Homo sapiens: one gene and its partners. The protein of the gene in region 2 purifies or fractionates together with the protein of the main gene of each other region. This does not show direct contact. Each region holds a gene or a part of one and is shown on either strand. Other genes may lie near its edges.

What was found.
Region 1: the proteins of MAK (region 2) and EIF2S1 purify together in Homo sapiens (affinity purification with mass spectrometry; one large-scale study listed by BioGRID and IntAct). This does not show direct contact.
Region 3: the proteins of MAK (region 2) and LTF purify together in Homo sapiens (affinity purification with mass spectrometry; one large-scale study listed by BioGRID and IntAct). This does not show direct contact.
Region 4: the proteins of MAK (region 2) and CNOT1 purify together in Homo sapiens (affinity purification with mass spectrometry; one large-scale study listed by BioGRID and IntAct). This does not show direct contact.
Region 5: the proteins of MAK (region 2) and FLG purify together in Homo sapiens (affinity purification with mass spectrometry, with the first as the bait; one large-scale study listed by BioGRID). This does not show direct contact.
Region 6: the proteins of MAK (region 2) and MRPL39 purify together in Homo sapiens (affinity purification with mass spectrometry; one large-scale study listed by BioGRID and IntAct). This does not show direct contact.

The regions. Positions count from the first base shown.
Region 1 is NC_000014.9:67,377,106-67,380,901, reverse strand, and holds part of EIF2S1 (eukaryotic translation initiation factor 2 subunit 1), read right to left. Parts: intron 244-3,796; coding exon 137-243; intron 1-136. UniProt on the Homo sapiens protein: Member of the eIF2 complex that functions in the early steps of protein synthesis by forming a ternary complex with GTP and initiator tRNA. This complex binds to a 40S ribosomal subunit, followed by mRNA binding to form a 43S pre-initiation complex (43S PIC).
Region 2 is NC_000006.12:10,793,361-10,797,156, reverse strand, and holds part of MAK (serine/threonine-protein kinase MAK), read left to right. Parts: intron 1-847; coding exon 848-1,159; intron 1,160-3,796. UniProt on the Homo sapiens protein: Essential for the regulation of ciliary length and required for the long-term survival of photoreceptors. Phosphorylates FZR1 in a cell cycle-dependent manner. Plays a role in the transcriptional coactivation of AR.
Region 3 is NC_000003.12:46,451,297-46,455,092, reverse strand, and holds part of LTF (lactotransferrin isoform 1 preproprotein), read left to right. Parts: intron 1-732; coding exon 733-788; intron 789-3,796. UniProt on the Homo sapiens protein: Transferrins are iron binding transport proteins which can bind two Fe(3+) ions in association with the binding of an anion, usually bicarbonate. Lactoferricin binds to the bacterial surface and is crucial for the bactericidal functions.
Region 4 is NC_000016.10:58,546,321-58,550,116, forward strand, and holds part of CNOT1 (CCR4-NOT transcription complex subunit 1), read right to left. Parts: intron 3,579-3,796; coding exon 3,399-3,578; intron 2,314-3,398; exon of another isoform or gene 2,179-2,313; intron 1,363-2,178; coding exon 1,246-1,362; intron 977-1,245; coding exon 866-976; intron 430-865; coding exon 352-429; intron 179-351; coding exon 1-178.
Region 5 is NC_000001.11:152,311,559-152,315,354, reverse strand, and holds part of FLG (filaggrin), read left to right. Parts: coding exon 1-36; intron 37-397; exon of another isoform or gene 398-607; coding exon 608-3,796.
Region 6 is NC_000021.9:25,597,452-25,601,247, reverse strand, and holds part of MRPL39 (large ribosomal subunit protein mL39), read left to right. Parts: intron 1-1,381; coding exon 1,382-1,449; intron 1,450-3,796.

The DNA of each region.
Region 1 (3,796 bases), on a different chromosome or scaffold from region 2:
TTTTGTTATAAAAAACAACCATTTAGAAAAATTTATAGATGTTGATGTAGCAACATATTCTTTGGTAAGTCTCATTATTTAATAGCTTTTTTGATGCATGCAAAATACTGTAAAAATCATTTAAAAAATCATTTACCTGCTCGAATTTTGACAGCCTGTGGGGTCAAGCGCCTATTAATATTATTAATGAGTACTTCCCGTTCATCTTCATTCAAATCTAAACTATCCAAAATAGATGGGTCTCTGGTCAAAAACATAAATAAATAACAAAAGGTCAAGGTTATATTACTGATAAATGTGAAACCAAACACTATGGAACAATGCATATAATAGTTAAGCATATAATAGTTAATGCATATAATAGTTAAGGCTTTAGTGTCACAATTAGAATTCAAATCTTAGCTTTGCACTTACACCCCAACTGATTATTAGTGAAATCAAAATTTTAGTGATCTGACTAAAACAAGCAATTTAATGCCTAACACATCTGATATTCTACTATAATTGATTACTTCCATGCAATTAGCTGTCCCTGCCTCAAGGAGTTTATAATCTATCTTGAATAGAAAAAAAAAACATGGAAAAACTTTTAAATGTAACAGTACATCTGTGGGCATCAGGACAGAAAGGTATTACTTCCAGTTAATGAGGTCAGGAAGGGCTTCATGCAAAAAGTAGCATTTCATCTGACCCTCCTAAGTGCCACAGGACAGGGACCAGGGTCTTATTAACTGGCATGTTTGTTGAATGAGTGAGCAAATGAAAATATGAAATAAAGACTAAAAGAGGAGTAGCACTGTAAAAAGTAAAGGTAGAACTATTGTAAAAAAGTTATGATACATAAGGCTGGGCACCAGTGACTCATGCCTGTAATCCCAGCACTTTGGGAGGCTGAGGCAGGGGGATCACTGGAGACCAGGAGTTCATAGACCAGTCTAGGCAACATAGCAAGACCTCCATCTCTATTAAAAAGAAAAAAAGACACTTTGGGAGGCCGAGGCGGGCGGATCACGAGGTCAGGAGATCGAGACCATCCCGGCTAAAACGGTGAAACCTCGTCTCTACTAAAAATACAAAAAATTAGCCGGGCGTAGTGGCGGGCGCCTGTAGTCCCAGCTATTTGGGAGGCTGAGGCAGGAGAATGGTGTGAACCCGGGAGGCGGAGCTTGCAGTGAGCCGAGATCCCGCCACTGCACTCCAGCCTGGGCGACAGAGCGAGACTCCGTCTCAAAAAAAAAAAAAAAAAAGAAAAAGAAAAAAAGAAAGTTATGTCATGTAAAAAAGGAATAGCATGAGCAAGCATCAGGCTTAATAAGCAAGGGGTCTTATTGGGAATAAAAGGCAAGAGAATTTGGGTGGAGGGAACTTTTACTCAGCTAACATAAAGTAACGAGAAGACAACCAACATAAATGTATAAGAAACAAGATGATAAACAGAAAATGGGCAAATGAGGTGAACAGATGTTTCACAGAAGAAATACAAATGGTTAAGAAACATGAAAAACTGTTGACCTCTCCAACAATCAGGAGTATGCAAATCAAAAGATACTACTGTGAATTCATTAGACTAGAAAAAGGAGAAAAAATCAGATATATACCAAATTGTGGCAAGGATTTGGTGAAACCAAGTCAGTTTAAAGATATATAATCAATCCTATGACCCAACAATTCCACTCCTAGGCATATATATTAGAAACTCTCAAACAACTACATATAGAGACACATACACTATTCATCACAGCCCTGTTTGACAAATGGCACAGAAGGGAAAATTACCTAAACAACTCTTAATAGAGGAACAGATAAAGCATATTCTCACAATGAAATACTATATAGAGATTAATATGGATCAAGTATACATCTATCATTGTGGGGGAATCCTGCTTAATAATAGGCTTATATGTAAAAATGCAAGCTACAAAAAGATACAATAGGTTACATTTTAAATAAAAAATGATAATAGACACATATGTAGTAAAACAATAAAAACAAATGATATTGATACATAATTTCAGAATAGTGGTTATCACTGATAAGTGAGGAAAATAGGTCTGGAAAGGTAAAACATTGTTTCCAACTATGTCAGAAATTTTATGTAATTAAAAGAAAAATGCAAAGAACTAGCATTAGTTAAATCTGGACAGTCCCTACATGAATGAAGCAAGAAAAGAGTGCTAAGGAAAAGGGAATAACACACGCCAAGGTTTAGTGGTAACAAGGGGTTGCTGGAACTAGAAGTTAAAGAGGTAACTAAAGAAGCCAGATGATGACAGTTGAGACAAGTTAAGAAATGTACTGAGGACTGCAGGACAGAAATATAAAGTTGTGTTTAATGGCTAATAGTGCAAACTCTGGATGGAGCCAGAATGCACGCGTTTGAATACTGCCTGGCTCTATGATTTGTTAGCTGTGTGACCTTGAACAAATTATTTAATCTCAGCTTCAGTTTCTTCAACTGTAAGAAAAGGATAATAATAGCATTTATACCACAGGTTGTTGTTAGAATTATATAAATGTTAGTTATCATTATTACTATTCCCACCTTTTCTACCACGTGATATACCAAAAAAAAAAAAAAAAAAAAAAAGTCACATGAGAATAAACTTGAAGGGATTTGGAACCCCAGATGAGTTGGCTTTCTGGGGGACTCTTAATGGTCTTGGGTCCTACTCATTCTCTTTTTTCCCCCCTCTAACTCTTAACATTTAGGAAGGAGTGGGAGGTAAAGAGACAGCAAGTATAGAGAACTGAAAGAGTCTGGCTTTTTTTTTTTTTTTAAGAGACAAGGTCTCACTCTGTCATCCAGACTAGAGTGCAGTGGTGCAATCACAAATCACAGCTCACAGAAACCTCAAACCACTGGACTCAAGTGATCCTCCTGCCTCAGCCTCCCAAGTTGCTGGGACTACTACAGGCAAATGCTACCACACCTGGCTACTTTTAATTTTTTTTTTTTTTAGAGATGGCAGTCTTGCTATGCTGCCCAGGATGGTCTCCAACTCCTGGCCTCAAGCAATCCTCCCACCTCAGCCTTACATAGTGCTGGGATTACAGGCATGAGCTACCACACATAGCCAAGTGTGGCTGTTAAAAGCAGAGGACGCAGTGTTTGCTCCAAGAGAAAGTAAAGGAAAAGTTGAGAAGTGGGTTTTATAGTATAAATGGAAGAAACTAGAGATATTTTTATGCTGATGGAGTAAAAGCAATAAAGGGAAAGGTGACCCAAGAGAAAAAGTAACTAATAGAGATCTCTGAGCAGCAGCTGGGCATAGGTGGCAAGACTAGTTTGAGAGCAATTAGGACACAAATTCCAGTGACAGCAGCATAGGAAGAAATGACAGGTGGGACAGAGATATGTAAGTTTGTTGAGACAGTGGAAAAGTAGTTCTTGTGCAATGGTTTCTATTTTCTTTATAAAATAAAATAGGTAGTGAGCATACCAGCCAAGAGGCAGGGAGCAGGGATAGAGTGGTTTTCTGAGGAAGAACGTGGAAAAGCTCTAAAATAGCCACTACTGAAGAACTGACCAGGAGCAGAGAGAATGTGGAACAGCTGAGGCTGGAGACCATGAATATGCAGTGGACCAACCTGCAAGACTGATTTTTCCTAGTAGCACCCAGCAGTCTACAAGTACAGAGAAGGCAGGAACATTGATCCAAGGCTGGATGGATGGAAGGAAAAACAAGGCAAAAGCTCACAATAATGGCAACAAAGTCGTTAAAATGATGTATCATGGTGTGCCTATGTTGGATAAGAGAGAAAAGGCAGGAAATGGCGAAAAGACAGGGAGAAAAAA
Region 2 (3,796 bases):
TGTTTGTTGTCCCCTCTTTAGATTTTTTTTTTATTACTAGTAGGTATATTGTTGTACTCAGGCTGAGAGTAACCCGGAATTTTACATACAGCTCTGGTTAATCATTTCAAATAATCTATATGGAAGATTTTCTTAATTCACTTTTTAATGTCTTTGAGTGTACTCTAAACCATTATTGGTGTGTAGTATTTTAGCTTGAAGTAATCACATTAATTTAGCCAATGTCTATAAATTACATTTTATTTTCACTAACAAATCTTTAAATAAATAGAACAGCTGTTTTGCTTAGATGTTATAATAACAAGTGAGCTTTCTATTTTTTCCTACTAGTACTTTTTTTTTTTTTTTTTTGAGGTGGAGTCTCGCTGTGTTGCCTAGGTTGAAGTGCAGTGGCACAATCTTGGCTCACTACAATCTCCTCCTCCCAGGTTCAAGCGATTCTCATGCCTCACCCTCCCGTATAACTGGGGTTACAGGCATCCACCAACACGCCTGGCTAATTTTTGTATTTTTAGTAGAGACTGGGTTTCACCATGTTGGTCGGGCTGGTCTTGAACTCCTGACCGCAAGTGATCCTCCCACCTCATCCTCCCAAAGTGCTAGGATTATAGGCGTGAGCCACCATGCCCAGCCACTTTTAATTTTTTAATGCAATTTATTTCTCAAATCATTTTTTTCTGGTTATCTTTTAAAAGAGGCACTGTATAGGGAATGATGGCTGCTTTCTAAATCTTTGAAGCTCATGTGGGCTAATGATAAATGCCTCGCACAGGGCCAACCATAGTTTATGTGCAATACATTTAGGTGGAACTGTTTTCCATTTGTTGTTTTCTCTGTGTTTTTATAGGCATTGAAACACCCATATTTTCAAGTTGGTCAGGTATTAGGCCCTTCGTCAAATCATCTGGAATCAAAACAGTCTTTAAATAAGCAGCTGCAACCATTAGAATCAAAGCCATCTTTAGTTGAGGTAGAGCCTAAGCCTCTGCCGGATATAATCGATCAGGTTGTTGGACAACCCCAGCCAAAAACTAGCCAGCAGCCACTGCAGCCCATTCAGCCGCCACAGAACCTGAGCGTCCAGCAACCTCCAAAGCAACAGAGTCAGGAGAAACCGCCACAAACGCTATTCCCGAGCATCGTCAAAAACATGCCAACTGTGAGTAGCCAGTCATGACACTTGCAATGAAATAGTTTGACTCGTGCAATTAAGATTTTTTTCGAGGCATTTCTAATAATGTTGGAAAAGATATAAAAGATTTTTCTTTGTTAAAGACCCTGAGTCCTCTGGTTGGAGCTTGACATGAGATCACTTAAAATTCTAATATGGTTTATAAAAAGAAAAACTTTCAGGATAAAAGTAACCAAGTTTACATGCTACAGTCTTCAGTCTTTTTTCTTTTTCTTTTTTTGAGACGGAGGTTCGCTTTTGTTGCCTAGGCTGGAGTGCAGTGGCACGACCTTAGCTCACTGCAATCTCTGACTCCTGGGTTCAAGCGATTCTCCTGCCTCAGCCTCCCAAGTAGCTGGGATTACAGACGCCCACCACCACGCCTGGATATTTTTTTGTATTTTTAGTAGAGATGGGGTTTCACCATGTTGTCCAGGCTGGTCTTGAGTTCCTGACTGCAAGTGATACACCCGCCTTGGCCTCCCAAAGTTCTGGGATTACAGGCATGAGCCACTGCACCTGGGCTTTTCTTTTTTATTTCTTGAGACGGAGTTTCACTCTATTTGCCCAGGCTGGAGTGCAATGGCACGATCTTGGCTCACTGCAACCTCCACCTCCCAGGTTCAAGCAGTTCTCTTGCCTCAGCTTCCTGAGTGGCTGGGATTATAGGCACCCACCACCACACCCAGCTAATTTTTGTATTTTTAGTGGAGACCATGTTGGCCAGGCTGGTCTCGAACTCCTGACCTCAGATGATCCACCCATCTCGGCCTCCCAAAGTGCTGGGATTACAGGCGTGAGCCACCAAGCCCGGCCTAAAATTCTTTCAATGCAGAAGAATTCAAAGAAAGAATTTAAAAGAATCGGGTACTCCAGAGTACTGATCCTAAATCTTAAGAATTTTTAACAGTACTTTCATTTTACAGTGTTCTTAAATGCTAAGGAACATGGAGAGAATGGGTTTTTATTTATTATTATTATTATTATTATTTTGAGACAGAGTTTTGCTCTTGTTGCCCAGGCTGGAGTGCAATGGTGTGATCTCAGCTCACCACAACCTCCACCTCCCAGGTTCAAGCAATCCTCCTGCCTCAGCCTCCTGAGTAGCTCGGATTACAGGCATGTGCCACCATGCCCAGCTAATTTTGTATTTTTAGTAGAGATGGGGTTTCTCCATGTTGGTCCGGCTGGTCTTGAACTCCTGACCTCAGGTGATCCACCCTCCTTGGCCTCCCAAAGTGCTTGGATTACAGGCCTGAGCCACCGCACCTGGCCAGAATAGGTTTTTAAAGTGTCAGGCATAGTATAAAACTTTTTCTTCCATCTTTTGTTCAGCTCCAGGAGCTCTTCAGTTGCTGTAGTATTTTAGCTGTCCCACTGGGTATACACTCCCAAATGTGTTTGCATTATGGCATTTTAGGATGGAAATCGGTCTTATACAGCACTGTATCTATTTCCTTCCAGTCCCCAACTGCCCCACCAACCTAGATAAGCAAGGCCTCCTCGTCCCCCAATAGCACTAATCACATTCTAACATACTGTTAATTACTTCTTATGTTTATTGTTTATTTGTCTCTTCCTCTGGAATGCAGCAAGCTCAGTGAGGTCAGGAATGTTTGTGTGTTTATCAGTACAGCCTCAGCACCCCGACCAGTGCCTGCCACATGGTAGATTCTCAGTAGATATTTGTTCAGTGAATGAAGGAATGAATAATTGCCCACATGACTTGTAAACCACCTCTGGGGTCCTGGGGAGTCCACTTTTATCTTTGGAACAGTTCTGAATATTAGAAAGTTCTTCCTTAATACTGGGTAAAATCTGGTTTTCTAGCTTTTAATGAAGGCTAATCACTTTTCTAGAAAGGCAGCCTTTTAGATATTTGAAAATAGCCCTTATATTATCTGCCCTTTTCTCTAGAGAAACTTCTCCAATTCCCTTAAGGGCTCTGCATATAACACCATTCACCAATGACTGATAACTCTCAGTTCCTATTATGAATGTGTCTTTAAGTCCCCTCTCATCTTGCTTTCCACTTAGAATGAGGTTGCCAGAGCTAGAGGCAGACAGCAGGCAGGGAATATAGAGCAGGGCGAATCACCTCCGACATTCTAAACCATATGTGCACTCGTGCCACCAACGATGACAGTCCTCCCCATGACCCCTTGGAAGATGCATCAATTGTTGACTCATATTGTGAGGGAAGGAAAGGAAGTTAATATTTATTGAGTAGCTTCCAAGTGCCATGCATATGCGAGGGACGCTGTGTGCATTCTCTAAGTTAAAGAGAATAACCTAGCCCCCAGCCCCGCCACACACACATTTTTATATAGGTGAGTTCCAGAGCTGGGATTAAGTACTGTGTTAACTAAAATTTCTAAGTATACCTGTTTTTTCACAAATGCTTCTCCTAAATTGCATATTCTGTACCTCTGACTTGTGTATTTCATCTCTAGGATTCAAAAAGTTGCAAGATCTCTTACCTCTTCAATTTCTAATTATTTTTGAATCTGTATTTTTTCTTCTCAGTTTACCCATTCTGCCCAGCTTGTTGCCAGCTGTGTATTTGTTTAGTTGTCTGTTTTGCTCCTGAATCTTCATGATGAATAGAACGACCGTGAGATCTTG
Region 3 (3,796 bases), on a different chromosome or scaffold from region 2:
CAACTTCTCACCAGCCCCACGGGCAGTCACTGTGGCTGTGGGCCCTCCTGTTACCTCAGAGAGCCCTGAATCCAACTTGGCTGCCCTGTTGTCCTGGGTTCCTCATACTAATTTCTGCCGCCTGCCTAACCACAGCAGGACTGAAGGCATCTTGTCATGAGATGTCCAGTCCTGGCTCCTGGTTGGGCAGGACCGCTGCAGTGTCCAGGCTGATGTCCTTCTGCCCACCTGGGCCTCTCCCCGTGGCTGAAGGACAGTGAGCAATGCCTGATTCGCCCCCATCCTCTCTGCCCCCACGCGGAGGCTGAGCTCCCCCTTTTCCCATTCTGTCTGCTGGCACTAGCGTATTTTTGCAGAGGGAGGCCTCCACACTTCCCCACTGGCCAGGGCACACCTGCACACTCAGTCCTGAGGAAAACAGCCACATGAACAGTGATGCTAAGGCTTTACCCTCTTGGGTAGAGGCTTCAAAACTCTCCTTTATATAGAAAAAAGTTTTGTCCTCTTAGCCCTCAAAGCAGAAGATGGGGGCCTCTGGCTAGCACCTGAGTCATTCTTCAGTATCTACCTGGAGGGGGCCCCTACCTTCCCAGCTGGGATGCCCCAAAGCTTCAGAGCCCTGCCCTGCAGGGAGTAGAAACCCATAGATGCTGAGTGCCAGGGCTACTGTTCCACAGGGAGGGGCTGGGGAGGGCTGCCTGTGCTTACCCCTGATGGTTTCTCTTTTCACAGGTGTCTGAGAGACGGGGCTGGAGACGTGGCTTTTATCAGAGAGAGCACAGTGTTTGGTAAGAGCAGGGTAATGAGCCGTGGGTACTGACCCCTTTTATCTTACTTGATCATGACTCTGACCTTTGAGCTAATTAGATTCCTAAGTTCATGGCAGACCATTTTCAAGATTCCTACAGGGCACAGCTCTGATTTTATGATCTTTCATATTTTAAATGATCAGTTTTCTTCAAACCTCCTGTGCCTACTGCCTTTCTCTTCCCCTCATAGACACCCATGCCTAGGTGCTTGGCAATGCGTCCTCCAGTCCTCCAAGACACATGTGCTCATGCAGAACAGATTGTGCTGGTTTGTGTTTCCGGTTTCTGGGTTCATAGAGGTTTTAGTGAGCATTAGAAATCCTGCTACTTGGGTTTTCTGCTCAGCATTTTGTTTTAGAGGTTTATCGGTATTGTTGTATACATGTCTAGCTCAGGGGTCCTAACAGTTGAGGAGTGTTCCGTGGAATACATCCACCTTTTACTTCTCTGTCACCATAGTGATGGACAGAGGTTGTGCTCTCTTTTCCTCTACCACATGCAGCCACACGACTGATACCTTCACCTGTGTTCCTTACTTACGTGCTGGACAGCGTCCCTCCTGGACTTATAATAAAGCAGTTGATGAGTATGTAGAGGCTAAACACACTGCACCCAGGACTAGTGGACATAAGCTCACTACATTTCATGCAAGACCAATAGAGACAGGGCTACTATATTCCACCCAGGGCCACTAGAGAAAGTGACAGACACCCACATTCACTCAGGACCATCAGAGACACACCCCACATCCACCCAGGACCACCAGAGAAAGAGACAACACCCACATTCACCTAGGACCATCAGAGACAGACCCCGCATTCATCAGAGGCCACCAGAAACAGACCTCCACATGCACCCAGGGCCACCAGAGACAGACCCCACATGCACCCAGGATCACCAAGCTGCTGTCTGGAATGACACTCTGCAAGTGTTCTAATTTCCCCACAACTTCAGTTAGAAGTATTTTTGACTTTCATACTTTTTGTCCGAATGATGGTTGTAATGCAATAGATAGTTCGTTTTATTTTTAATTTTCATTTCTCTGACAGCTGGTGAGTTTGATCATTTCAACATATTTGCTAGCCGTTTGGGCTTCCCTTTCTTATTTTGTGACATTTGACTACTTTTTAAATTGAGTTTCACACCTTGTTTCTGCATGATTTTGATTCAAGGACAGAAGTTCCTTCTATCTAGGTATCAAACTATTGCTGATTTTAAACTTTAGTAAAACCTCTTCTCAGTCAAAAATCTGACAACGGTAGTCTCTGTTGATCAAAAATCCTTGATATTGATAAGGTCAAATCCACAAGCCTCACCTTGTTGGTTTGTAGTTTTGAGATATTTCAAAGATGCCCTTCTTCACACCCAAATCATAATTATTTCCTAAAATAAGATTTGAAGATCCCCTTCCTCATCTATTTATATGTGCTCTACCTAGAAAGTCAGATATAGATTTGGCTTTAGCATTTTATCCCCTTTACAGTGAGGCAATTTACCTTACAATAAAAAAAGTATATTTTTTCTGCCATATGTGAAGCCAATTCTACACCAAGTTTGTATATATCCAAGTGGACCAGTTTCTGAGCTATTTTATTTCATTGGTGTATTTGCATTTTTTCTGCTTTTGTTACTGTGGCTTACCAATGGGTCTTACTATCTGGTGGAGAGAAAGAGAGAGAGCCAGTGAGAGGAAGAGAGAGAGAATGAGAGAGAGCTCCCTCTCCCCTCTCACTTTATTATTCCTTTTCAAATATACTCAGCTAAAACTTCAGAATTATTTTGTTGAATTTCTGGAAAAAATCATACTTTAATTTTGATTCGAATTGTACTGAATTTAAATTGTTCCATGAAAAATCAGCATATTTATAACATTAAGTTGTCCAGTCCATGGTGATGCTAAATCTCCCCCATTTGATCACACCTCTTTTTAGTTTCTTTGATAGAACTAAAATTTTTCCTTTGTGGGTCTGATGTGTCTTTGTGGGAGGCTAATTATTAGCTACTTAATGGTTTTAGTTGCTATTGTAACATCTTATAGTCCATATTGGTTTCTATTTGGTTATTGTTAATGAGGATAACATCTGATTTTTGTAGGTTGCTCTTATAACTTGTTACTCCTCTGAGTAGTTTTATTAGTTTCTGTTGGTTTCATTGGTTTTTTGTAGATGACGATATCATCTTTTTAAATAAGAGTGTGTCTTTTTCCTTCCAGTGTTTATATCTCACATTTCTTTTGTAAATTGTGTGATCTGGATATCTAGAATTGTGCTGGCATTGTAACAGTGGGCATCCTTGCCTTGTTCCTGATTTTGCGGTGAATGTCTACATTTTCTTCTTTTAGTAAGGTTTTTGCTGTAGATTAATGGCATTTATCAAGCCAATAACTTATGGCCAGGCGTGGTGTCTCACCCCTGTAATCCCAGCACTTTGGGAGACTGAGGCGGGTGGATCACATGAGGTCAGGAGTTCGAGACCAGCCTGGCCAACATGGTGAAACCCCATCTCTATTAAAAATACAAAAATTAGCTGGGCCTGGTGGCGTGCGCTTGTGGTCCCAGCTACTTGGGAGGCTGAGGCAAGAGAATCTCTTGACTCCAGGAGATGGAGGATGCAGTGAGCTGAGATCGCACCACTGCATTCCAGGCTGGGCAACAGAGTGAGACTCCGTCTCAAAACAAACAAAAAAACTTTACCGATTCTATCTATTACTATTTTTCTGAGGCTGAAAAAAAAACCACACACAAATAGATGTTGAACACATAAACAATCGTTCTGCATCTATTAAGATGAAGACGATCTCATGGTTTTCTGCCATTAAATGCAGATTACTTTAGTTTTTTTGATGTTCAGCCATTCTTTTGTTAATGGAATACACTGGTAAACCTTCATTCCAATCTATTAGCTTTTTAAATACTCTGTGAGATTGAGTTAGTTAGTACGTTATTTACAAATTTTGCATTTATGTTCGTAAGTAAAATAAACTTTTA
Region 4 (3,796 bases), on a different chromosome or scaffold from region 2:
TTGTGGTTGTGATGGGAGGGAGTTCTTCTGGCTGCTTGACATCTTTCTTTGGAGCAGAGAGTTGCTCATCTAAATTCTTCAGGCGATCTTTATCCTTTAGGAGGTTTCCAGGTTTTAGCTCATTGATGTCTAATGCAAGGTTCTTGCAGAGAACCTCGATTTCAAACTTCAAGTTTAACTGCACAGTTCCAGAGTTGGATTAGAATTTTTAAAAGAAAACTTTAGTTTTACTCATAATATACTCTACTTTCAGTTATTATAGTACTTCCCCCGAAATACCCTGCCTTCACTGTAAGTTTTAATAATGTGAAGGCAAAGAATGTTCCAGAGGACAAGGAAGCAGTAAATTACCTTTAAGTCATGCTCCTGATGTAGCTCAGCTAATACATTCATAATTGCCATTGTCCAAGGGTTTGGTGGCCTAAAAACCTAAAGAAAAGCTATTATGTTAAGCTGGCCCAAAATGTGCCCTTTAATTTGGATTATTTAAAACAATTCAATACAACATAAGGGGGTAGGGGGGAGTCAAACAAATAAAAAACAAAAAACAAGGATTAAAAAATAACCAAAAACAGTTAAACATAGTTAAACACTTATACCTCTGTAGCCATAACAAAACCCCTAGCCTTCTCACCTATATCACATTTCAAAAACAAAACAAAACAAAAAACCAAAAACCAAAGCCAACCATTATAATCTTTCTTATTTCACCCAGCCTCTCAAATTGGAAATCCAAGTGCCATAGAGGAAAACAGACTTAACTAGCTTTACCTCACAAGAACTAAGAATATAATCTCTTGACCTCATGCTAAAACAAAGCAATGCTTAGAAATTAGTCATAAATAAAATATTAAAATCTACTCACCACACTACGAATGCTAGATTCTAAGACTTTGGCAACAAAGGGCACTACATAGAGCAATTCTTGTTGTCCTTTAACATAAGCCTCTAGCAGCAATGATTTCACATCCAAGTCCTAGAATAAGAAAAATACTTTCAAAAGCGGGGAATATACCCCCCAAAATGGTATAACAAAACCAAAGAAAAGTATTTTGCCAAGCTTATCCCCAAAACAGGAATCAACATAATGTCTAGTCCTTGCCTTACAAAAAGGGGTTAACAACTCAAAACGTGGGCCAAAATCTTACAAAACCCCAATAATCATTAAATAGCTCCAAACAGCCAATACTTGTAATCATAATGTGCTGAAGATTCTCAATTTTTACACATTTAGATGAAACTCACAGTGTGTAAGATGGGTTTGTTTTTAGCTAATGTGATCATTCCTAGCCAATGTCCCAAGTTCTTCAGCAAAGAACGATCTGAGAAATTGGCTGCAGCTTTATCAGAGGTCAGGAGCACCTGAAATAGTGTAAGATTAAGAAAGATATGAGAATAAGCTTATGAAAGAAAACTCAACTAAGTATTTGAGAATTCCATTATCCTATCCTAAAGACAAGTCATCATTTCTAAGAACAGGCCCCAAAGTAGAATTACTCTGTATATCATTCTCAATATCATTTTGCTGTGTTTATGATTCAACAGTGCTATTTTTACCTTGAAGAAGTCTTTACATTTTATTTTTTCAAAATAGGTACAAACACATTGCACAAAATTCAAAAAGAACACAAAGTTATGTGCCAGCTATCCTCCCCTAGAAAAGTATTTTCAACTCTGAAAACCTTAGCTAGGTTTAAAGCAGAGACCTAACTACAAAGCTATTTTGAAGTGCTAAATTAATTTAAATGAGGATGATAGCCATGCTTAAGTCCTTAAAGGCAGCAAGCATACAAAGGAATATAATCAAATTAGCCTCCTATTGCAATCTTCAGTATACCCAGGTCATTAACAAATCTCTGCAGCCAACCAAGATAACTTTCTGAGATATAGTATAATACTGTTTATATACTTCTTTTCAAATTTCTAAAAAACCCAAACCATTTAACTGATTCTCCGGTTACTGTTTTTCTAAGGGGGGGCAGAACTAACATAGGAGAGTGTTTTGGCTGCAGGTATGCACACATGTATATACCCATCTACTCTGTGGTACCTCTTGACTTAGGGCTATATTTAAACTTCTGTTTAAAAAACATGGTCTTGAAACTTTGCTACAGAGTATGTGGAAACTTTTATGTATCCCAACCACCCTTGCTATCAGATAATAAAAACGAAATAGAGCCATGTTCCTTAACTCTATACAGCAACAGCAGAATGGCACAAGTCAGCTGTGCAACAGAGAGCCAGGAATTCTTTTGCACTACAGCGTAACCAAGAATGGGGAATATTCCCATCCACAGGTTTAAATATAGTGCTGGTTCCTAAGCCAATGACCCAAGTTATTGAGCAAAGAATGACCACAGCTGTATGCTGGTTCTAGAAGTTTTTCCTCCTAAGAAATAAATGATGGTTTAGAAATTAAAATACTTGAATTTTGTTGAATAAGCCTCAGCTCAGTAGAATTTGACCTTAAACTGCACAGACTCCTAGACAACAGCTATTCCACAAACAGATTTAGAGTCTAAAGATATCTTGCACTTGAATACTACAAGATACAAACGAAAACATTCAGGACAGCATTGTTTATAATAGTTTAAGTGATTAACAACACAAATGCCCAGCAGCAATACAAATACATACAATGGTTTTCTACAAGACTATATTTTTCTGTTTTTTAAAAAAGAGGACTGGCCGGGCACAGTGGCTCAGGCCTGTAATCCCAGAACTCTGGGAGGCCGAGGAGGGTGGATCACCTAAGGTCAGGAGTTCGGGACCAGCCTGGCCAATATGATTAAACCCCGTCTCTACTAAAAATATAAAAATTAGCTGGGCATGGCGGTACAACTATAATCCCAGCTACTCGGGAGGCTGAAGTAAGAGAACTGCTTGAACCTGGGAGGTGGAGGCTGCAGTGAGCCGAGATCGTGCCACTGCACTCCAGCCTAAGCAACAGAGTGAGACCACATCTCAAAAAAATTGAAAAAAAAAAAAAAAGGGGGCTACAGCAAAGAGCATTATCATTATCATGAATAATATCCAGGGGAGAAAAAAAAGTAAGTGAAAAAAAAAGAAAAGGATGTACAGAGGGCGACACCATACAGAATATGCTAACCAATACTATGCTGCTTATGTATAACAGTGGTAAAGTTCTAAAATCATGCATGGCATGACAAAAACAATTCATAATAGTGGTTACTTTCAAAGAAAAGGCACAGGGTATGCCTATAAATTTAAGTTCTGCATAAAATTTAGTTCCATATAAGAAACAAAATCTACAGCAATTTCCAGAGGTACCTAATATTGACAATATATATGGAAAAATAGCAAAAATCCTACCTATATAATCAAATATTTCCAAATTCAAAGCAATAATTAAAGGAAATATAAGAACCAACTCTTACTTTAATGTTTCTGTAGGTCTCATTCAGAACCATCTTGTTAAATTCAGGATTCTTCAGCGTGTCAAGGAAGTTTGAATACAGGCTATGAAAGTTTGGCTCAATACTGACTCTCTTCATAACCAGATACTGTGAAACCCAAGGCATAAATTCTTCTTTCACCGTTTCCTTTAGCTCTTCAACCTAGCCGGTCAATACGACATGGGAAGCACAGAATTACACTATGATAAAATAACACTTGGTTTCTATGAACCATACTATACAGCACATGGCTCCTTGCAAAACTAACTAGATGCTAAAGAATGACTTTCCTTCACACCAGATAGATGCTATGAAGAAAAGTATGCTCAATTCCATAGTCAATCACAACTCAACCCATACGTGATTGGGACTGAAACATC
Region 5 (3,796 bases), on a different chromosome or scaffold from region 2:
GAACTTCTGGAAAAGGAATTTCGGCAAATCCTGAAGGTAAGAGTCTCTGACAAGACCAAAGATAGAGCATTTGTTTTTCTCATCAATAATCTAAGCAAGGGTTATTTTGAGCTCTTTGTGAACTATTTCTCTTAAAATAGGAAAAGAGTTAATCTTGTCTCAAAAGAGATAGATTTTATTTTCTTCCCCTATACCTGGATGTATATTATAAACATAAAGACACCCTCAGAGAAAAAAATATAAATATTTAAAAATTAATGTAAATTAGTTCTTAGTATTTTGGTATTTATAATATTCTCCCAAACATCAACATTACTAAGGGGATTTTTGTTAAAGACAACTAAGTAATGAATTATATACACTTCTGACTTTTAAAATAAGAAAAAGAGTCACTTACCCCATCAAATCTTGATACCTTACTAGTCTACATCTTTGTTCACATATAACACCTGAATGAGGATGAGACAAAAAAGTCTTAAAAAAAAAAAAGATTTTGTCCCACTTTTTAATACTCAAAGATCAGGTTCCTTAAATTAACTTTGAATTAATTGGCTGATAATGTGATTCTGTCTGATGCAGTCTCCCTCTGTGACTTCCCTCTGTACAGAATCCAGATGACCCAGATATGGTTGATGTCTTCATGGATCACTTGGATATAGACCACAACAAGAAAATTGACTTCACTGAGTTTCTTCTGATGGTATTCAAGTTGGCTCAAGCATATTATGAGTCTACCAGAAAAGAGAATTTACCGATATCAGGACACAAGCACAGAAAGCACAGTCATCATGATAAACATGAAGATAATAAACAGGAAGAAAACAAAGAAAACAGAAAAAGACCCTCAAGTCTGGAAAGAAGAAACAATAGAAAAGGGAATAAGGGAAGATCCAAGAGCCCAAGAGAAACAGGGGGGAAAAGGCATGAATCTAGTTCTGAAAAAAAAGAAAGAAAAGGATATTCACCTACTCATAGAGAAGAAGAATATGGAAAAAACCATCATAACTCAAGTAAAAAAGAGAAAAACAAGACTGAAAATACTAGATTAGGAGACAATAGGAAGAGGCTAAGTGAAAGACTTGAAGAGAAAGAAGACAATGAAGAAGGAGTATATGATTATGAAAATACAGGAAGAATGACTCAAAAATGGATACAATCAGGCCATATTGCCACATATTACACAATCCAGGATGAAGCCTATGACACCACTGATAGTCTATTAGAAGAAAACAAAATATATGAAAGATCAAGGTCATCTGATGGCAAATCATCATCTCAAGTGAACAGGTCAAGACATGAAAATACAAGCCAGGTACCATTGCAGGAGTCCAGGACAAGAAAGCGTAGGGGATCCAGAGTTAGCCAGGACAGGGACAGTGAGGGACACTCAGAAGACTCTGAGAGGCACTCTGGGTCGGCTTCCAGAAACCATCATGGATCTGCGTGGGAGCAGTCAAGAGATGGCTCCAGACACCCCAGGTCCCATGATGAAGACAGAGCCAGTCATGGGCACTCTGCAGACAGCTCCAGACAATCAGGCACTCGTCACGCAGAGACTTCCTCTCGTGGACAGACTGCATCATCCCATGAACAGGCAAGATCAAGTCCAGGAGAAAGACATGGATCCGGCCACCAGCAGTCAGCAGACAGCTCCAGACACTCAGCCACTGGGCGCGGGCAAGCTTCATCTGCAGTCAGCGATCGTGGACACCGGGGGTCTAGCGGTAGTCAGGCCAGTGACAGTGAGGGACATTCAGAAAACTCAGACACACAATCAGTGTCAGGCCACGGAAAGGCTGGGCTGAGACAGCAGAGCCACCAAGAGTCCACACGTGGCCGGTCAGGGGAACGGTCTGGACGTTCAGGGTCTTCCCTCTACCAGGTGAGCACTCATGAACAGCCTGACTCTGCCCATGGACGGACCGGGACCAGCACTGGAGGAAGACAAGGATCGCACCACGAGCAGGCACGAGACAGCTCCAGGCATTCAGCGTCCCAAGAGGGTCAGGACACCATTCGTGGACACCCGGGGTCAAGCAGAGGAGGAAGGCAGGGATCCCACCACGAGCAATCGGTAAATAGGTCTGGACACTCAGGTTCCCATCACAGCCACACCACATCCCAGGGAAGGTCTGATGCCTCCCATGGGCAGTCAGGATCCAGAAGTGCAAGCAGACAAACACGAAATGAGGAACAATCAGGAGACGGCACCAGGCACTCAGGGTCACGTCATCATGAAGCTTCCTCTCAGGCTGACAGCTCTAGACACTCACAGGTGGGCCAGGGACAATCATCGGGGCCCAGGACAAGTAGGAACCAGGGATCCAGTGTTAGCCAGGACAGTGACAGTCAGGGACACTCAGAAGACTCTGAGAGGTGGTCTGGGTCTGCTTCCAGAAACCATCATGGATCTGCTCAGGAGCAGTCAAGAGATGGCTCCAGACACCCCAGGTCCCATCACGAAGACAGAGCTGGTCATGGGCACTCTGCAGACAGCTCCAGAAAATCAGGCACTCGTCACACACAGAATTCCTCTAGTGGACAGGCTGCGTCATCCCATGAACAGGCAAGATCAAGTGCAGGAGAAAGACATGGATCCCGCCACCAGCTCCAGTCAGCAGACAGCTCCAGACACTCAGGCACTGGGCACGGACAAGCTTCATCTGCAGTCAGAGACAGTGGACACCGAGGGTCCAGTGGTAGTCAGGCCACTGACAGTGAGGGACATTCAGAAGACTCAGACACACAGTCAGTGTCAGGCCATGGACAGGCTGGTCACCATCAGCAGAGCCACCAAGAGTCCGCACGTGACCGGTCAGGGGAAAGGTCTCGACGTTCAGGGTCTTTCCTCTACCAGGTGAGCACTCATAAACAGTCTGAGTCCTCCCATGGATGGACAGGGCCCAGCACTGGAGTAAGACAAGGATCCCACCATGAGCAGGCACGAGACAACTCCAGGCACTCAGCATCCCAAGATGGTCAGGACACCATTCGTGGACACCCGGGGTCAAGCAGAAGAGGAAGGCAGGGGTCCCACCACGAGCAATCGGTAGATAGGTCTGGACACTCAGGGTCCCATCACAGCCACACCACATCCCAGGGAAGGTCTGATGCCTCCCGTGGGCAGTCAGGATCCAGAAGTGCAAGCAGAACAACACGTAATGAGGAACAATCAAGAGACGGCTCCAGGCACTCAGGGTCACGTCACCATGAAGCTTCCTCTCATGCCGACATCTCTAGACACTCACAGGCAGGCCAGGGACAATCAGAGGGGTCCAGGACAAGCAGGCGCCAGGGATCCAGTGTTAGCCAGGACAGTGACAGTGAGGGACATTCAGAAGACTCTGAGAGGTGGTCTGGGTCTGCTTCCAGAAACCATCGTGGATCTGCTCAGGAGCAGTCAAGACATGGCTCCAGACACCCCAGGTCCCATCACGAAGACAGAGCCGGTCACGGGCACTCTGCAGACAGCTCCAGACAATCAGGAACTCCTCACGCAGAGACTTCCTCTGGTGGACAGGCTGCGTCATCCCATGAACAGGCAAGATCAAGTCCAGGAGAAAGACACGGATCCCGCCACCAGCAGTCAGCAGACAGCTCCAGACACTCAGGCATTCCGCGCAGACAAGCTTCATCTGCAGTCAGAGACAGTGGACACTGGGGGTCCAGTGGTAGTCAGGCCAGTGATAGTGAGGGACATTCAGAGGAGTCAGACACACAGTCAGTGTCAGGCCATGGACAGGATGGGCCCCATCAGCAGAGCCACCAAGAGTCCGCACGTGACTGGTCAGGGGGA
Region 6 (3,796 bases), on a different chromosome or scaffold from region 2:
TAACAAAATCTTTCTTACTATGATGAAACATGAAGTAGTCTTTGCAGGTTAATAATTAACATCATAGAATTACTGGAAAGTGTTTGTCTTGAATATGAATTTCATGGAATTCCACTATCTCAGCGTTTATTTATTTATTTGAGACGGAGTTTCACTCTGTCACCCAGGCTGGAGTGCAGTGGCGTGATCTTGGCTCACTGCAAGCTCCGCCTCTGGGGTTCACACCATTCTCCCGCCTCACCCTCCCGATTAGCTGGGTCTACAGGCGCGCGCCACCACGCCTGGCTAATTTTTCTGTATTTTTAGTAGAGACGGGGTTTCACCATGTTAGCTAGGATGGTCTCGATCTCCTGACCTCGTGATCTGCCTGCCTCGGCCTCCCAAAGTGCTGGGATTACAGGCGTGAGCCACCGTGCCCGGCCCTTAGCGTTTATTTTTTACTTTAAGCATATATTTCCAAATTGGATGTATAGAGGAGGAGGAAATCTGAGTATAAGTAGACTACTGTAAAGAGCTGTGCTTAGGTGGTAATATTTCACCAGACAGGACCATTACTTTGGAAAGTGACAGCACTTTGGTGAAATGACAGGGTGTGGACTGTAATTTTGCTAAAACTAGGATTTTGGAATAGTAAGTATGGTAGGATCACGTGTCAAATTTTTTTTTTTTTTTAAAGAAGTAGATATACCTAAAATATTTGAAAGAAGCTCAAGAAATGATTCTAAGAACAAAACCCCAAAAAGAAGATATTTAGGGGATATAAAAGAAATGTAACATTTTGTATCCATTAAGTTATTTATCTACTTACTAAATATCTTGTTCTTTTGGAATTTTTTTTTTTTTTTTTTTTTTAAGACGGAGTCTCGCTGTGTTGCCAAGGCTGGAGTGCAGTGGCGCGATCTTGGCTCACTGCAACCTGCACCTCCCAGATTCAAGCGATTCTTCTGCCTCAGACTCCCAAGTAGCTGGGATTACAGTTGCCTGCCACCAAGCCCGGCTAATTTTTATATTTCTGGTAGAGATGGGGTTTTACTATGTTGGCCAGGCTGGTCTCAAATTCTTGACCTCAGGTGATCCACCTGCCTTGGCTTCCCAGAATTTTTACATCTGGTAACTGTATGAAATCTGTATGGCAATAGCATTTGTGAAGAAAACTTGAATGTTTAAAAAATATTTGTGATTTGGGGTTGACAATCTTTTGGCTAAGGGAAATTTGATAGAGCTCTGGCAAGCAGCTGGAAGAATGGCAACCATTTTATAATTTGTAGAGTTGGGAGAGAGTGCTAATCCTTTTTATGGTCTAAATATTCAGTTGTTGCAAATTAGTAACTTTCTGTTGGGGCAGATTTGACTTTGCTTTTTATTTTGGTTGGATTTACAGTAATTTCTGGTGCCTTCTGTTATGACGTAGTTTTGGATAGCAAACTTGATGAGTGGATGCCAACAAAAGTAAGTGTATTCTTCTGGAGTATTAATTTTAGAGTGTCTGCCTTTCTTTGTTAGAATGATTCCTATGTTAGTATTGTTGAATGGTACTGCATGTTGAGAACATTTAAAAGAATCTATGTATCTATCTATGTATCTATGTATCTGTCTGTCTGTCTATCTATCTATCTATTGGTGTTGTTGCTTTTTCAGCCTATTTAAGACAGAGGGATGTGAATGAGAGTATTTACATCAACATGGTCAGTTGTCTTGAAACTTTATGTTCTGCTTGACCTTTTCTTGATGTTCCTTCTAAGTGGTTTTAAGGTAGTGGTTTTCAAGAGGCCCAGGATATAAAATATAAAAACTTAACTATCTTGACCCATGTGGTAGTAGGGGGCCTGGAGCCATACTTGTTTGGGTCGCTGGAGCACAATTTGAAAACCACTCCCCTAAACCATTTTAACTTGTTGCATACAGTGAGGTCCCTGTATATACAAGGGTCACATTGAGAGCTGGGTGAATTAAAGAATCAGACTTTGACAAAGCTAATACTCAAGCATCAACAAATGAAATATTAACAAACTAAACTCTTTGTGAATGGTTTGCCTTTGTAATGAGGATGGTCCTTGTTGGTCTGGGACTTGGGTAGCAACAGAGCCTAACAAGGACAGTCTAGATCAGGTGCTCAGTAGGTAAGGGGTGCTGATGGTTATCAAAGATCAAGCCTGGAGATGTAGTTCTGATTGGGGAGAATAGGCAAATACCTAATTCTTAATTAAACAAAACTATATGTCCTATGTATTGGGAGTCTGGAGATCTGAAAAGGGGAAGCAGTGTAGCACATCATTTTATCATTTCCACTGTGTACATTCTTTTTATATTTAATATCTCTGAAAATATATAAGCCTTATATTAGATGGTATCTTGCAATTAGAATTTGTAGTGTTTTTTTTTTTTTTTTTTCCCCTTAGTAATACATCTTAGATTTAGTAAAATACTGTAGTGGTTCTTAAAAGCAAGGATTTTGGAGTAAGGGCAGATCCAGCTTTAAATTTGGCCTTGGAAATTACTTTTTGTATAATCCTGCGCATATTACATAATATTGAGAGGGAGAGAAGAGGGAATCAAGAAAGAATGAGAAAAAGGGAGAGGGAAGAGAGAGAGAAGAGGATGGAAAGAGGGGAGGGAAGGGATTGGAACTGTTTCTTCATGACCTCTGGGCTCCTGTCAGTGTAGCTTCTTCCTTTTCAAGTATGTCTCCAAATTTAAGATTTTTTTTACTGGGGCAAGTTAGGTAAAAACTGAGGTCAAGATTTAATTTTCATTATCTGTGAAACATAACTGCTTTTTTCTTTCTTTCTCTCTCTTTTTTTTTTTTTTTAAAGAGATGGGGGTCTCACTATGTTGCCTAGGCTGGCCTTGAACTTCTGGGCCCAAGCAATCTTCCTGCCTCAGCCTTTCTAGTAGCTGGGACTGCAGGTGTATGCCACTGTGCTTGGCTTTTGCATTTTTCTTTTTTAAAAGATAAAACCTTACAAAAGAAATATGTGAGCTGATTGCAGACTCCATGGAGTTGGGTTGAGTAGACAGCTTAAAGAAAGTAGGGTAGAGTTACATTGAAGGAATAGTTGTATTAAACCATGAATGTTGATTTTTTTATACAGTAAATTATTCTTTATAGAGAAGTCATTTCATGCAAAAAAGTCTAATAGGATTTTTATGGAAATAATTTCATTATAAAAATTACTTGTGTAATAGTGCTTGGTTTTTTCTGTGTTATTAGTAATGATTTACAGTATGAAAGCTCAATTAGAATTTTTATTAAAAATCTTAAACACATTGTTAATGTGTATTCTTCATCATTTTAATTGTGTAAAATTGACATTTTTATTAAGCAGAAACTTTTAATATTGGACATGCTATACTTTGCACAGGGTGGGTGATGATGCTACATTTCTAGTGAAACTTTCTTAATTAAGAAAACAATAATTTTTCCCCATATATTTAATAAACTTAGATTTATTCATACTGTAAACACATTTTTATGTCTTGCTATTTATTTATTGGCATTTTTACTTGCTGCATCATAGTTTTAATAAACATTTTAAGGTTGTATAATTTGGATGAAATTATATAATTTGGATAAAATTTCTGTATAGTTTTCTCTTTAATAATTAGTATTAATGAAGGCTGACACCTTAATTACAGGTAAATAAGAAGTTTTATAGTTTATGGTCCAAAACTTCAGTTGTTGCAAATTAGTAACTTTCTGTTCTAACAAATTTGATTTTATCTTTTATTTTAGTTGGATTTGCAGTACTAAGCATAGAGTTTTGTTTCAACTGGCTTATGGAGAAATGCTTTTCAG